4 linked regions of the Homo sapiens genome follow. The protein of the gene in region 3 purifies or fractionates together with the protein of the main gene of each other region. This does not show direct contact. Each region holds a gene or a part of one and is shown on either strand. Other genes may lie near its edges.

Evidence for each region. The genes of interacting proteins can lie anywhere in the genome.
Region 1: the proteins of KLRB1 (region 3) and ARL8B purify together in Homo sapiens (affinity purification with mass spectrometry; one large-scale study listed by BioGRID and IntAct). This does not show direct contact.
Region 2: the proteins of KLRB1 (region 3) and ARL5B purify together in Homo sapiens (affinity purification with mass spectrometry; one large-scale study listed by BioGRID and IntAct). This does not show direct contact.
Region 4: the proteins of KLRB1 (region 3) and CDC45 purify together in Homo sapiens (affinity purification with mass spectrometry; one large-scale study listed by BioGRID and IntAct). This does not show direct contact.

Annotation. Positions count from the first base shown.
Region 1 is NC_000003.12:5,174,292-5,178,159, reverse strand, and holds part of ARL8B (ADP-ribosylation factor-like protein 8B), read right to left. Parts: intron 3,817-3,868; coding exon 3,746-3,816; intron 1-3,745. UniProt on the Homo sapiens protein: Small GTPase which cycles between active GTP-bound and inactive GDP-bound states.
Region 2 is NC_000010.11:18,662,431-18,666,298, reverse strand, and holds part of ARL5B (ADP-ribosylation factor-like protein 5B), read right to left. Parts: intron 1-3,868.
Region 3 is NC_000012.12:9,601,028-9,605,265, forward strand, and holds part of KLRB1 (killer cell lectin-like receptor subfamily B member 1), read right to left. Parts: intron 573-4,238; coding exon 474-572; intron 1-473.
Region 4 is NC_000022.11:19,503,920-19,507,787, reverse strand, and holds part of CDC45 (cell division control protein 45 homolog), read right to left. Parts: intron 2,427-3,868; coding exon 2,307-2,426; intron 403-2,306; coding exon 271-402; intron 23-270; coding exon 1-22. UniProt on the Homo sapiens protein: Required for initiation of chromosomal DNA replication. Core component of CDC45-MCM-GINS (CMG) helicase, the molecular machine that unwinds template DNA during replication, and around which the replisome is built.

The DNA.
Region 1 (3,868 bases), on a different chromosome or scaffold from region 3:
AGGGATGGGAGAGGAGGCTGTCACTGCCAAGGCTGGTGCAGGGTTCACACCATGCCCTTTTGACATCTGGGGCTGGGTAATTCTTGTCCTCACTTCTTCAGAAGGGTACATGAGAGTCTATCAGAAGCACCACTCTATTCTCCAAGCCTGAAAGATGAGGGTAAATTCACTACCAGTTTCCCAGCTAACATGCATTAACGAAACACCACAGGGCTGAGCTATAACAAACATGAACTGTTCACCATTGTGGAAGCAATGATTTAACCCAACTACTGAAGAAGCACCTCTGCACCTTAAAATGGGGACAACAGTGCACAATACGAGCAAAGCCACACTCATTGGAACTGAATGGGAGAAAGGTAAATCTGAAGTGAAATAACCAAATTTAAATATTTAAGAAATTCATGGCCGGGCACGGTGGCTCACACCTGTAATCCCACACTTTGGGAGGCCGAGGCAGGTGATCACCTGAGGTCAGCAGTTTGAGACCAGCCTGGCCAACATGGTGAAACCCCATCTCTACTAAAAATACAAAAATTAGCCGAGCACGGCAGCGGGCGCCTGTAATCCCAGCTACTCGGGAGGCTGAGGCAGGAGATCACTTGAACCCAGGAGGCGGAGGTTGCAGTGAGCCAAAATTGCGCCACTGCACTCCAGCTGGGCCACAAGAGTGAAACTCCATCTCAAAAAAAAAAAAAAAGAAATTCACTAAAAAATTACACAAAGCCTCTGTGGATACTGATAGAAGTTCATATCCTAAAGACAAATGGATCTTTATGAATAGGCAAAAAGACAACAGAAATAAGATACTCAGATGAACTGATCTACAAAATACTTATTTCGAATTTTATTAGAGTGGATCTTATTAGACTGGATCAGATTCCTTGGGCTTGACAACCTTTTAAGTGAGCCAGGAGTTCTAAAATTACTACTGAGCTATTTAGCCAACTATAAAGATCAGCCTCAAATAGCGAAAGAAGTCCTCACAGCTCTACTGCACTTCCATATATGAGCCCAAGAGATTTTGTTTTTTTTTCAGGAAGTATCCAACTAGTTTGTAACAATGGAAAAACAGAAAACATGTAGGGAGTAATGGATTTACAAAATAGCACAATGGACTAAAAATTACGGTTAGTGTAGAACAGGATTTCTCAACCTTGCCACAACTGACATTTTATGCTGGATAATTCTTTGCTGTGGAGGTTATAGTATGTTTAGCTACATTTCTGGTATCTACCCACTAAATGCCAGCATCACCCTCCTAGTTATGACAACCAAAAATGTCTCCAGACATTGTCAAGTCTCCTGGGGGAAAAGCTCCCCATTGAGAACCACTGATGTAGAAATAAATGCTCTCATGGGGCATATCTTAAATTTTAAAAAGAGTTTTCCCCGCCACATAGAGAAAAAACTTTTAAATAAAGTCTAAGTAACCACAAGTGCTTGAGGAGTCTGTTCTCAAATAAATGCTCCCAATGTAACAAGTGAATTATTCTATCCATTTATAAAGGAAAATTTGTGTCTATCCGCTGTTACTAAGGCTGAGACTGCCCTGGATGGTCTTTAAAGGAAGCCCAAAATTAGCCAGAACGACTATCCACACTTTAAACTGAATAAAGCATATTTGTGGCTGGGCGTGGTGGCTCATGCCTGTCAATCTAAGCACTTTGGGAGGCTGAGGCAGGTGCATCACCTGAGGTCAGGAGTTCAAGACCAGCATGGCCAACATGATGAAACCCTGTCTCTACTAAAAATACAAAAATTAGCCAGGCGTGGTAGTGGGCAACTGTAATCCCAGCTACTCAGGAGGCTGAGGCACAAGAATCACTTGAACCCGGGAAGTGGAGGTTGCTGTGAGCTAAGATCTTGCCACTGCACTCCAGCCACGGCGACAGAGTGAGACTCCATCTTAAAAAAATAAAAATAAATAAAGCCATGTTTGCAGGCGGGGTGGAAGGTGAGTTAGGGAAGGATAGACTGGAATACAAAAGCTAAAGAAAAAATATCAGCATAAACTTTATAGATATACTATTCTGGTACTATTTATTACATTTTGTTCCAATACATTCATTTATCAAATCATCTCAAACCAAATTAGTTAAGAAACTAAAGTTGAGCCATACATACTTATTCTGTAACCATACTATGCTAGAATGTTTAATGTCCCCCTAAAAAGTCATGTCCATCCAGAACCTCAGAATGTGACTTTTACTGGAAATAGGGTCTCTGCAAGTTATTAGTTAAGATAAGGTCATACTGGATTAGGTGGGCCCTACCTAATCCAGTGACTTGCGTCCTTAGGAAAACATAATACACTGACACAGAGACAACTACAGGGGAGAAGCATGAATGTGAGGCAGAGACTGGAGTGGTATATCTACAAGTGAAGGAATGCCAAGGATTGCTGGCAACCACCACAAGCTAGAGAGAGGCAAGGAGGGATCTTCTACAGCCTTCAGAGAGAACACGACCCTGCTGACAACTTGATTTTGGACTTCCAGCCTCTAGAATTTTGAATGACTTAAGTTTCTGCTGTTCTAAGCCACCTTGTTTGTGGTACTTTGTTATGGCAGTTCTAAGAAGTTAATATGGGCATTGAGTAAATGAAGGGTATTTTGGGCATATAATTCCAATAGAGTGCTAACATATTGCAGTAATATACTGGTTCAATAACTGAAAAATTGTTGTAGTGCCTGTAGACTAATTTTTGTAAAGTCTTATTTCAAAAATGCCATTTTGTTATAAAGCACAGCGGGATACTAGCTCTGCAAAAATTAACACAATAAATTGGTATCACATAATCTTAACCTCACGACTTTATTGCATTTTCTTCTTTAAATAGCACAAAGAAGATTCAGGATGTTATACATTCAGTCCTCACTTAACATCACTGATAGGTTCTTGGAAACTGCCACTTTAAGTGAAATGGTGTATAACAAAACTATTTTTTTCTCATTAACATTGTAACGCTGAACGAAATGAGGGCCTACTGTATGTCATTTCGCTTAAAAGTGCAATTTCCTCTTTTTAAAAAATTTTTTGCTGTTCAAGAGTTTGATAACATATAGGCCGGGCTCACACCTGTAATCCCAACACTTTGGGGGGCCGAGGCAGTTGGATCATTTGAGGTCAGGAGTTCAAGACCAGCTTGGGCAACATGGAAACCCTGTCGCTACTGAAAATACAAAAATTAGCCGGGCGTGGTGGTGCACGTCTGTAGTCCCAGCTACTCAGGAGGCTGAGGCACAAGAATCGCTTTAACCCAGGAGGCAGAGGTTGCAGTAAGTCGAGATCACGCCACTGCACTCAAGCCTGGGTGAAGGAGTGACACTGTCTCAAAAAATACATATACATATAATATTATTTATATATATATATTTATGTTATATATAATATATATTTATATATATTATATATTACATATATATTACATATAATATATAATACATATTACATATATATTACATATAATATATAATACATATTACATATATTATATTATATATATATTTGTATGAGAGAGAGAGAGATAACATTGCAATTTCAAAGAAGCCATCAATGATGTTAAGTGAAGGTTCACTATATTTGTTGTCAAAAGGTATGTCTATTCTTTTTTCTCAGGCAAAAGCAACAGTATTCTGAAAAGGAAGTCACTTAATGAGAAATCGAGACAATAAGCTGTAAGAAGCATAGACATTCCTTCCAATGATACCCATTTCTTCCAAAATTACCAGTCATTTCTTACCTATATTATCCTTTTCTTTGCAAGAAATTGAATAGCAGCAAATTTCTCTATCCTGAATAGCAGACAGATTCCTATGAGAAGAATTAAAAGGATAAGTCTGTGCTTAGAACAGCTGTCATACTT
Region 2 (3,868 bases), on a different chromosome or scaffold from region 3:
TAGGGGAGAGGAGACCCAAATATTAATCTAGGCAAAAATTATAACCTAAATGTAAGTTTTTTAAAAAGCCTGTTTTACACACCTTTTTAGCTCTGTACCAATCAAGTTAGCTTTTTATCAAAATGTTTTCATATCTGTAAGTTTCCCCACCTATGTATACCAGGATCTGTTTCTTCCTCTCACTTAAAAATCCCATGTAAGCTTAAAATTGAAACGTTTCATGTGTCACAAAGACAAACATATACTCTCAAGTTTTTACACAATTACTCATTGTTTAACATTTTTTCAACCGGCTTCTACAGTTCTTTTGAGCAGATTCTGTTTCTGCTCTTTGTACAATGAAAATCTCTTCAGTTCTTTCCTCCTTTGGGTGCCATGCACTAAATATTCACCTCTTTTAATAAGTAGTTGCTAAAGCTCATCTAATTATTCCGTTAAGTGGTATATATTCTGCAATGTCCTTTGAATACAGAAAACAACCCAGATACCATCTTTCCTAGATTTTCACTTATGCCAAGTATACTAAAGATCCCCTTCTCCAAGGCAGAAGAATGCTTAAAAAGTTACAAGTTAACATCAACAGGGTAAGTAGGGAAGTTTCCACAGAATCACAACACAGTTGATTTGTAGGCAACGATTGGGCACATCTCATATCAGAATCCCGCTCTTCTTGATGACCTCTGGTGAATGTCAACATTCTGGTCATATAATCAACTATCAGCTCATATTCCTACTCTGAAGTTCTAAACTTCATCAGCCAAAAAAAGAGGGACCAAGAAAATTTAAGTTCTTGAGATGTGCAGGTCTTCCAATGACCTACACACTCTAGATACAGCCTATTACAGTGCAGGATAAACAGACACGGTCCTCTGGAAGGGCTATTTTCACTATGGTAGAAGCTGCTTTGTAAAACAAAACAAAACTTGCCTGCTTAGTATAACTCACTATAATTCTCCTTATTTATTTGAGACAGGGTCTTGCTTTGTTGCCCAGGCTGGAGTGCAGGGGCATGATCACTGCAGCCTCGACCTCCCAGGCTCAAGTGATCCTCCTACCTGAACCTCCTGAATAGCTGGGACCACAGGTGCACACCACCAAGCTTGGCTACATGTCCTCTAATGAAGCTAATCTTTAAGTATTACCCTGTTTGTTATCCCTTAAAGTACAAGAACCTTTATCAGTGAGGAACAAACAGACTGCCTGGCACTAAGCATTCTAAATTTTGGTGACAGCTAGAAGCTCCACCTACCAAGCATCTACAGAAAACAACATGCCTGCAGTGGTGAGAAGGAAGCCACTAGTTTAAAGATAAGCAAAACTTGAAGGCAGATAATCCTGTTGGGAGAAAGGAATGGAAGGACAGTACCAGATGGCTCCTTCTTGAAGCAACTCAAATGAAGACCCAGGTCATTTGCAAACAATCCTGCTCCTTGCTTCACTTTTGCACTATGATGCTTCACATAATACTGAAGGCCTGTGATGGTAAAACTCACCAATAATGCACCATTTTGAAAGGTAGGTCCCTAACATGAGGAAATGTTAGGTTAAGACACTACTGTTAGGCCAGGCGTGGTGCCTTACGCCTGTAATCTTAGCACTTTGGGAGGCCGAGGTGGGAGGATCACGAGGTCAGGAGATCAAGACCATCCTGGCTAACACGGTGAAACCCTGTCTCTACAAAAAATACAAAAAAATTAGCCGGGCATGGTGGCGGGTGCCTGTAGTCCCAGCTACTTGGGAGGTTGAAGCAGAAGAATGGCATGAACCCGGAAGACGGAGCTTGCGGTGAGCCGAGATCGGGTCACTGTGCTCCAGCCTGGGCAACAGAGCGAGACTCCATCTCAAAAAAAAAAAAAAAAAAAAAAAAAAGACACTACTGTTACTATCAGTTACAGTAAATCAGAATGTTTTAGGCCAGGTGCAATGACTCACACCTGTAATTCCAACACTTTGGGAGGCCAAGGAGAAGTGATCAGTTAAATCTAGGAGTTTGAGACCAAACTGGGCAATACAGTAATATCCCATCTCTTAAGAAAAAAGTTAGCCAGGTCAGGCATGGTGGCTCACACCTGTAATCCCAGCACTTCAGTAGGCTGAGGTGGGCAGACCACAAGGTCAGGAGTTCAAGACCAACCTGGCTAATTTGGTGAAACTCCGTCTCTACTAAAAATACAAAACTTAGCCGGGCATGGTGGCAGGTGCCTATAGTCCTAGTTACTTGGGAGGCTGAGGCAGGAGAATCACTTGAACCTGGGAGGCAGAGGTGGCAGTGAGCTGAGATTGCACCACTGCACTCCAGCCTGGTGACAGAGCAACACTCCGTCTCAAACAAAACAAAACAAAACAAAAACAAAGAATGGTCTGGAAGACAGGATGCAGATAGATGATAAGTTTAAGTTTAGTGTGTTTGAAACCTGCTTACAGTCCAGAGTTAAGAGCAGAATAAGCTGGGGCCGGGCGCAGTAGCTCACACCTGTAATCCCAGCACTTTGGGAGGCCGAGGTGGGAGGATCACAAGGTCAGGAGATCGAGACCATCCTAGCTAACATGGTGAAACCCCGTCTCTACTAAAAATACAGAAAATCAGCCGGGCGTGGTGGCAGACACCTGTAGTCCCAGCTACTTGGGAGGCTGAGGCAGGAGAATGGCATGAACCCGGGAGGCAGAGCTTGCAGTGAGCCGAGATAACGCCACTGCACTCCAGCCTGGGCGACAGAGAGAGACTCCATCTCAAAAAAAAAAAAAAAAAAAAGAGCAGAATAAGCTAAAGAGAGAAATGTGAGCCACAAGATCTGAGATCTGAGCAGTCAGAAGTAAAGGACAATAATCATACGCAATTGGCAACCAGTGTTCAAAATGATAACATGAAATTCATGGATTGGAAAGAAATGATTAAATTATGAAATTAAGATGTTACTGTTACATGGTTCTGAAAAAGAACTACAATTAAAACTGTATTTCATTTGTTCTTAATTCTGGGTAACACTAGAAATAACTGGCCAGGTGCAGTGGCTCACGCCTGTAATCCCAGCACTTTGGGAGGCGAGTAGATCACCTGAGGTCAGGAGTTCGAGGCCAGCCTAGCCAACATGGTAAAATCCATCTCTACTACAAATACGAAAATTAGCCAGGCATGGTGGCAGGTGCTTGTAATCCCATCTACTCCAGAGGGTGGGGCAGGAGAATTGCTTGAACTTGGGAGGCAAAGGTGGCAGTGAGCTGAGATCACAGGACTACACTCCAGCCTGGGTGACAGAAAATATAACAATAATAAATAAAATTTAAAGACATCACTGGGCCAGGCATAGTGGTTCACGTCTGTAATCCTAGCACTTTGGGAGGCCAAGGCGGGCGGATTACCTGAGGTCAGGAGTTCAAAACCAGCCTGACCAACATGGTGAAACCCCACCTCTACTAAAAATACAAAAATTAGCCGGAGTGGTGGTGTGCGCCTGTAATCCCAACTACTCAGGAGGCTGAGGCAGGAGAATTGCTTGAACCCAGGAGATGGAGGTTGCAGTGGACCGAGATCGCACCACTGCACTCCAGCCTGGGTGACAGAGTGAGACTCCATCTCATTAAAAAAAAAAAACAAACAAACAACAAAAAAAGAAATAACTGATGACAGGTTTCCACAATCATAACACTGAGAGAAAAAGACTATGCCTACAAAAGTTCAAAAGAAATTTAAAAAACAATGCAAAACTTTAGAGGTGAGCTATCAAACACACATAACACATATGTATTTCACAGAACTACATTAACATATAAAATGTTTGCAGAGATAATCAGAATTCCAAATTATTTCCTTGAATAATAACTGTCGAAGTAAACAGGCTTCCAGTTCAAACAATACAAAATTGCAGGA
Region 3 (4,238 bases):
GATAGGGAAAAACTGCCTTAGGGCTGGAGGTAGGACCTGCGGGCAGCAATACTGCTTTGTAAAGCATTGAGATGTTTATGTGTATGCATATCTAAAAGCACAGCACTTAATCCTTTACATTGTCTATGATGCAAAGACCTTTGTTCACGTGTTTGTCTGCTGACCCTCTCCCCACAATTGTCTTGTGACCCTGACACATCCCCCTCTCGAGAAACACCCACAAATGATCAATAAATACTAAGGGAACTCAGAGGCTGGCGGGATCCTCCATATGCTGAACGCTGGTTCCCCGGGTCCCCTTATTTCTTTCTCTATACTTTGTCTCTGTGTCTTTTTCTTTTCCAAATCTCTCGTCCCACCTTACGAGAAACACCCACAGGTGTGTAGGGGCAACCCACCCCTACAGAGATGCTCTAAGATACGTAATGGAAGTAGAGTAAGTATTATGAAACAGATGATGGTGCCCCACTTACCTGAAACACTCAACCCAGTAACAACCAAGACAAGGAGAATAATCCCAGCACAGCTAAGTTTCAGGGCAAATTGATGCCAAGGTGAACCCTGACAGACATCTGAAAAGTTAAAAAGAAAAACACAAAAACAAACAAACAAACGAAACAAAAAACCTTGGTTAACTCAGTGGAGTACATCTGGCACAAAAATGTACTTGGGATAACATAGGGACAATTAGATTCAGCTTGGGGGATGGGGGCAGGGAACAACCTCTATCCATCATTCTAAAAGTAGAGTCCTGCAAGATGGGTTCTCAGATCCAACAGAGTTTGCTCATTGATAAAATATGAACGCTTATGCATGTGTGTATACAAAGGATTGGTGTAAGAACCAAATGAGATAGATAGAAAGATGTTTTGAAAATTGCCAAGTGCTATACAAAAATTAAGTGCATGTCTTAATGTATGAAGTAAGTCAAAGCATTTTGTCCAAGAAGGAAGACCTTCATTTAGTCAAGATATTTTTTGAGGCTCTCTCTATTTTGTGCCAAGTACCATGTTAGGTGCTGGTGGTATACAGAAATTCTATTCTTGGACATGGAATCCTCTGCTTTGCTGTTGTCTAGAACAATCATCTCCAAGTTGGGTCTAAGCCAACTTGGGATCCCAAGCCATCAAGGGATAAGGTTTTGTGACTGCATACCTTTTTCAATATTATCACTAGTATAACATAACATGCGCTTATGTCTACAACATCGCATAGTCTAAACCAAGTGTCAGATATCTCTGCTTTTCTCTGTAATCACATCAATTACTATATAATGAATCTCCCATGTTCTTCAAAAGTTATGATTATATTGATGAAATGTTATAAATTAATCGCAACTTTATCAATGTATTTTGCTCTGTATCTTTGAAAACATGAATTAATAGAAAAAAAATAAAGAGAGATTTATAAAAATATTTTGGAGAAACACTGGGATATAGCTTCCAAAATTAAATCAACTCTGATAAGGAATTATTCTGGTAGTATATTGCTCAGTTACACTGCTAGAAGTTGTGCCTAAATAGCTCCCCTATCTCTGATTTAATTGTAAGTCTCCCTCTGCTCTCATTTGGTTTTTAACATATTAGATATATTATAATTATAAATTACTTTATAAATTCTATTATTAGAGCTAGGAGCTTTTATGAATAAAGGCTTTCTAATTTATCTGAAGCTATTGATTTATTTGTATTGTCTATTCCTTTTTATTTTTTCTAATATTATTCCATGTAAGTGATTACTTGCTATGAGTTACATGTTAAAAAATTTAGCATCAGATATACTATAATATTATCCTTTAGTCTCTTTATATGTTTCAGAACGGCCATGAAGCCATTTCTACTTTTAATGGTACAGTATCCTTGAGGATTAAGTTGTGCAGTCCAGTTTGCAGACCTGATAATCTCTCACATTAGGATGCTCACACTGATATAAGTGAATCAGCTCTCTCTAAAACGGCCCTGAGGAGATAGAATTTAGTAGCGTTAGATGTGATCAAAGATTATGGGAGGAACCATAATACACTGGGGTCAGGGTTGTAACATATGGATTATCGTCTGGTACTATTTAGGACATGCTGTATCAGTGGAGGGGGGCAGGGAGGAGTAGATACCTAGAGGAGACTCCAAGGCCCCAGGGATATATCTGAATGTGAGGAAACCAAGCTTGGTAATATTGGCCTAGAACTTCTAATGAGAGCTGGTGTGATACAAGAATGTCTACATGCAGTCAATAAGCCCAAGACAGCACTGGCATGGCTTTCCTTCCAGTTTTATATATGTACGTTATTTCACCTTTCTGTCTCTTCTCTTCCCCACCGTTTTCTTCCTTGAAACTCTAAGTTTGTTTGTCTAGTGGAGAAAGCTCTGTATAGTCACTATTTTAAGTGTTAACTTAATTCTATTTATTTATTTATTTATTTTTGAGACGGAGTTTCACTCTTGTTGCCCAGGCTCATGGTGCAATCTCAGCTCACCGCAACCTCCGCCTCCCAGGTTCAAGCAATTCTCTTGCCTCAACCTCCCGAGTAGCTGGGATTACAGGCATGCGCCACCATGCCCGGCTAATTTTGTATTTTTTTTTTTTTTTTTTAGTAGAGACGGGTTTCTCCATGTTGGTCAGGCTGGTCTCGAACTCCCAACCTCAGGTGATCCACCCGCCTCAGCCTCCCAAAGTGCTGGGATTACATACGTGAGCCACCGCACCCAGCCTAATTCTATTACTAACATGAATTTAGTAATTTTCATTACTAAAGGCTAACATTGATTAAGAACAGTCTTTCCGATCTAGCAAATCTGAATGTGAACATGTTATTTTGGAAAATACGTTCAACCTTCATAACCCACAGATTTCCTCATCTGTGAAATGTGGAATATTATCTATGTCATAATATTTTGGAGAGGATTATATGAAACAATTCTTCTAAATGCTGGGCACAGTGTCTGGCACATGGTAACTGTTCAATGAACAGCAGTTCTTTTTTTCTAAAAGTTGTTTTTTTTTTTTAACTATAGGTAAAAGGCAACTTGGTGACTTTTAAAAATCGTTATTCATTCATGCTAAAATGTAAGGAGTTGAGTGGAGTGTACTGTGTCTGGGAGGAATGTACTCCTGTACTGTGTTTCTGTGGCACCACGTGACATTAGAATTAATGAAGTTACAATGAATCACTACAGGGGTCCGGCGGACGTTAGCTATCTGGAAATACCTACCTATGGCTGTTCTCCATTTGAGTTTAAAAAGTATGTGAAATCATCTCATTTCATTATTCTAAACCTTCCAATGGCTTTTCATCAGGCAAATCTGAGTCTGTAGAATGGCTCATATGTCCCTATTTAAGCTGGCGCCCACTTCTGTTGGATGTTATCACTCACATCTCTCTGGTTTTGTTGACTGCCTTAGACACAATCACCATGCTACAGAGTGACCATAGCCTCAACAGTTTAGCCAGAGTCCAATAGTGGTTTCACATTTTGCCCTCACCCCATCTGGCCTCCATACGCTCACTCTCCACGCAGATGCCTCCTACAATACCACAGGCGTGTTTTCATTTCGATGTGTTTGCACTTGTTGGTCACCTTCCTAGAAGGCTTCTCTCTCAGGGGCTTATGTCTTTGTCCCTCACTTCTGTCAGGTTTTGACTCAATGTCATCTTCTCAGGGAGGCCTTCCTTGATTATTCTGTTTGATATGCTACCCTCCCCGAAAGTTAAATCCTATATTCAAATCTTTCTCAATAACATTAACACCGTCTCATCTTTTATACTGACTTAGTTATTTGTTTATTTTATTGATGGTGTGCCTCCATTTTTTTAATTTTTATTTTTTATTATACTTTAAGTTCTAGGGTACATGGGCACAATGTGCAGGTTTGTTACATATGTATACATGTGCCATGTTGGTTTGTTGCACCCGTTAACTCGTCATTTACATTAGGTATTTCTCCTAGTGCTATCCCTTCTCCCTACCCCCACCCCACAACAGGCCCTGGTGTGTGATGTTCCCTGCCCTGTGTCCATGTGTTCTCATTGTTCAATTCCCACTATGAGTGAGAATATGCGGTGTTTGGCTTTCTGTCCTTGTGATAGTTTGCTCAGAATGATGGTTTCCAGCCTCATCCATGTCCCTACAAAGGACATGAAATCATCCTTTTTTATGGCTGCACAGTATTCCATGGTGTATATGTGCCACATTTTCTCAATCCAGTCTATCAATGATGGACATTTGGGTTGGTTCCAAGTC
Region 4 (3,868 bases), on a different chromosome or scaffold from region 3:
CTTCACCTGCTTCAGGGGAAGACTGGAAAGAGCAAGCCCAAGCCACATGAGTGAGGTCACCACACACCGACAGGGTGGAAAGAAACCCAAACCAAGGGCAAGCGAGGATGTCCCCGCACCAGCATTCAGAAGATATTCTGGGATCTAGGGCAAGGAGCTTATGGCAGAACAGGCTGCATTTTATAACTAAGTTGGTCACAACAAAGCAGAGGGGCTTTTCCCTTGGGGGTGGCCAGGGCTGGCACTGCAGAGGCCCAGGCAGTCACTCACCCCATGTCTGCAAGGAACTCCTGGAGCCGCTTCTGTCCATGCACAGACCACAGCTTGAACCTGGCTGCGGTATAGCTGGTGTTGCACAGGCTGTCATGGAGGGACCAGTGCTGGTAGAGCACCAGGCGGAGGCTGGGCCTGCAGTCAAGGAGCATGCAAGCACCCACTGGCCGCCCTGAGCACTCTCGTAACTCCAGCAGGTGGGCCACTCTGATGGCGGGGCCCTTTCTCACCAGGCCTGCCTGCAAAACCAGGTATCCCAAGAGTGACCTGGAGCCCTTTGACCTTCTTAGCTTAAGCTGACCCATACAGAGAGCCTGTGAAGTGACAGGCATAGACCACCATCCGTCTGACAGGCAGAGAATCTGGAGCACAGGGGTCTGCAAAGTCCAGGTGCTGTGGTCACATGGAGCAGTCATGGCCACACATGACGTAGGAGGCTGGGCGTCACCAGCTTGTCGTCCTGCACCTCCTGCTCCACCTAGCCCAGCCCTCCCTACAACCCATTCCTCCGGAGAGCCCTCCACTGGGACCCCATCCACGAAGCGCCCCCATCCTCAGCCCTTTTTTCGTTTTTTTTTTTTGAGACGGAGTCTCGCTCTGTCGCCCAGGCTGGAGTGCAGTGGCACGATCTCGGCTCGCTGCAAGCTCCACCTTCTGGATTCACGCCATTCTCCTGCCTCAGCCTCCCGAATAGCTGGGACTATAGGCACCCGCCACCATGCCTGGCTGATTTTTTGTATTTTTCGTAGAAACGAGGTTTCACCGTGTTAGCCAGGATGGTCTCGATCTCCTGACCTCATGATCCACTTGCCTTGGCCTCCCAGAGTGCTGGGATTACAGGCGTGAGCCACAGCGCCCGACCTCCTCAGCCCTTTTCTTAAACATATCCATCACTGCCCCTGGCACCGTGAGCGCAGTTGTGAGTGTGGACTGTCCCCCACGGTGGATTTCCCCTCTACAGGACGAGAGCCTGGTCCTGCCTGCTTCCTCGGCATGCTCAGTTCCCACCACTGCCCCTCCCAACTCCTGGGAACTCCCAGGCCTTCAGACCACCATGCTCCCTGCCCACACTCCAGCAGCTTCCTCAAGCCCCAGCATCCTCAGCTCCCTGACTCCCTCCCTCCTGTCTCAGTCACACACTCCCATGGTCCCTGGGTAAGTGAGCCCACCCTGCCACGCACATGATGGGACCAGCTCCAGTGCACAGCGGCTCCCCTCCCCAGGAGTTCAGCCAGCTCCACCCCGCTCCCCAGGCTCCGATGGCCACCTGACTACTGACGTGTCCACCCTCACTCTTCCTCCTTCCCAGCCATCACAGTGCAGAGACAGGGCAGCTCCGTCCCTGACATCATGCTATCTGACTGCTTACAGCCACTGCTGCAGTTTGGGCCAAGCCACTATTGTGTGGCCTTGGAAAGCAGTGACCATCTCCTTGCCCCCAACCTACCTCTACTGGGCAGCCAAGGGACCTTTTAAAAACCCTGACTCAAACTCTGGTCACTCCACAGCCTCCCGCTGCCCTTGGCTCACAAGGCTTGCTCTGGCCTCCTGACACCTGACCCCAGCCAGTCCCCCAGCCCCTCCTGTGCTCAGTACAGCAGCTGCCACACTGAGTGTGGCTGAGACTGTGTGAGATGTGGTCTCCCCATGGTCTTTTCTGAGCACTCCACCAATGTCCCATGTGCTTCTCAAAAGACACGTCACGCTGTGTGATTACATGGCAGCTGCCTTCTTTCCTGACTGCGTGAACCACTGCCCGCACTGCTACCATGTCCAGAGCCAGGCCCACAATAAGCACTTTACAGGGATGTGCTGGAGAAGGGTGATACTTCCAAACTCAGCTCTGGCATTTAGAAGCCAAAGCCACACAGATGAGCTGGGGTAGCACACCACAGCCCCTTCCCCCAAAACTTCCTGCCCCACCTGCTTTCCCTCCTGGGGATGTGGCCAGAACCCACAGAGGGTGACAAAGCAAACAAGGCCTGCTGAGCAGGGGTGCTGCCTGTGCCCCTCAGGCTGGGCCACAAGGATACTCATACTCAAAGGAGATCCGTGTGCAGTCCACGGAGAGTGTGTTCTCCTCATCCTCGTTCCGGTGGTTGTGGCGGGAAACGTGGCGCTGCAGGACACCAACATCAGTCACGTATTTCATTCTGGAAAAAAAAGTAGCACAAGCCTCGGCTGGTTCCCTCCAGCTCTTACCAGGCAGCCTAAGCCTAGGCTCCATTCCCGCTCAAGGCCTTCCTCAGGGGCCTGCTCACCACAGGAGCTGTTCCCATGCAGGGACTAAGGACATGCAGCCTGCATAGAAACCAAGCACCCAGGAAAACATGATTGGATGGAGCGGGGGGGTGTGGTCTCTAGCCTTGTCCACCTCCGGTCCTCATGGGTCTCACACCTCCTGAGAATGGGCACCGCAGAGGCCACAGCCCATACAGCCAAGATGACAGACTCCGTAAGTGACAGGGATCCACAGCAGAGTGGGTGAAATGTTCCCTATAAACTTTACAAAATTAATGAGGGCAGGGGGAGGGGAGAAATGAAAATGAACCCAGCTCGCAGCACATCAGCATCAGTCACTAGGTCGGCGTGCTCTCTGACTGCTTCCTCGTAGCTGCTTGGTGTCTCATTGCCTCAGAAGCATGTAGACCCTGTCACAAGATTGTAGTTCCCCTAACTGCTCCGTAGATCACAACTTGAACCTTAGGAAATGCTGTTTTCCCTTTGAGATATTCCTTTGGGTCCTGTATACTGATGGAGCTACTGACTGAGCTGCTCCGAAGGACCCCACGAGGAGCTGACTAAACCAAGAGTGCAGTTTGTACACCCTGATGATTACATCCCCCTTGCCCCACCAATCAACTCTCCCAATTTTCCAGCCCCTCACCCTCCAGTCCCCTTAAAAGCCCCAGCCCAGGCCGGGCACAGTGGCTCATGCCTGTAATCCCAGCACTTTGGGAGGCCAAGGTGGGCAGATCACCTGAGGGCAGGAATTTGAGACCAGCCTGACCAACATGAAGAAACCCCGTCTCTATTACAAATACAAAATTAGCCGGGCGTGTTGCTGCATACTGGTAATCCCAGCTACTTGGGAGGGTGAGGCAGGAGAATCACTTGAATCTGGGAGGCGGAGGTTGCGATGAGCCGAGACAGCGCCATTGCACTGCAGCCTGGGCAACAAGAGCAAAACTCCATCTCAAAAACAAACAAACAAACAAAACCAAAAAAGCCCAGCCCAGAACTCCTCAAGGAGATGGATTTGAGGATCTCCTCCCATCTTCTCACTCGGTGCCCTGCAATCATGAAACTCTTCCTCTGCTGCAAACTCTGCTGTCTCAGTGTAACAAGTCTGTTACTGCACAGCAGGCATACAAACCTGCTGGTCCTATAACACATTATGGTGAGTCTAGCCTCGAGCCCCTTGTGGGCATTTGCTTGCCTGCGGCTTGGTGCGCCTTCGCTGTTCAGTGGGAAGGACCCAGAGACAAGCCCAAAGCCCAAGCGGCCACTGGGTTCCATTGAACTATATGGGCTGCCACCCGTGCCCTGCCTGTTGACAGGGCAATGTCAACCTTTGGTGCATAGACTGCTCGCA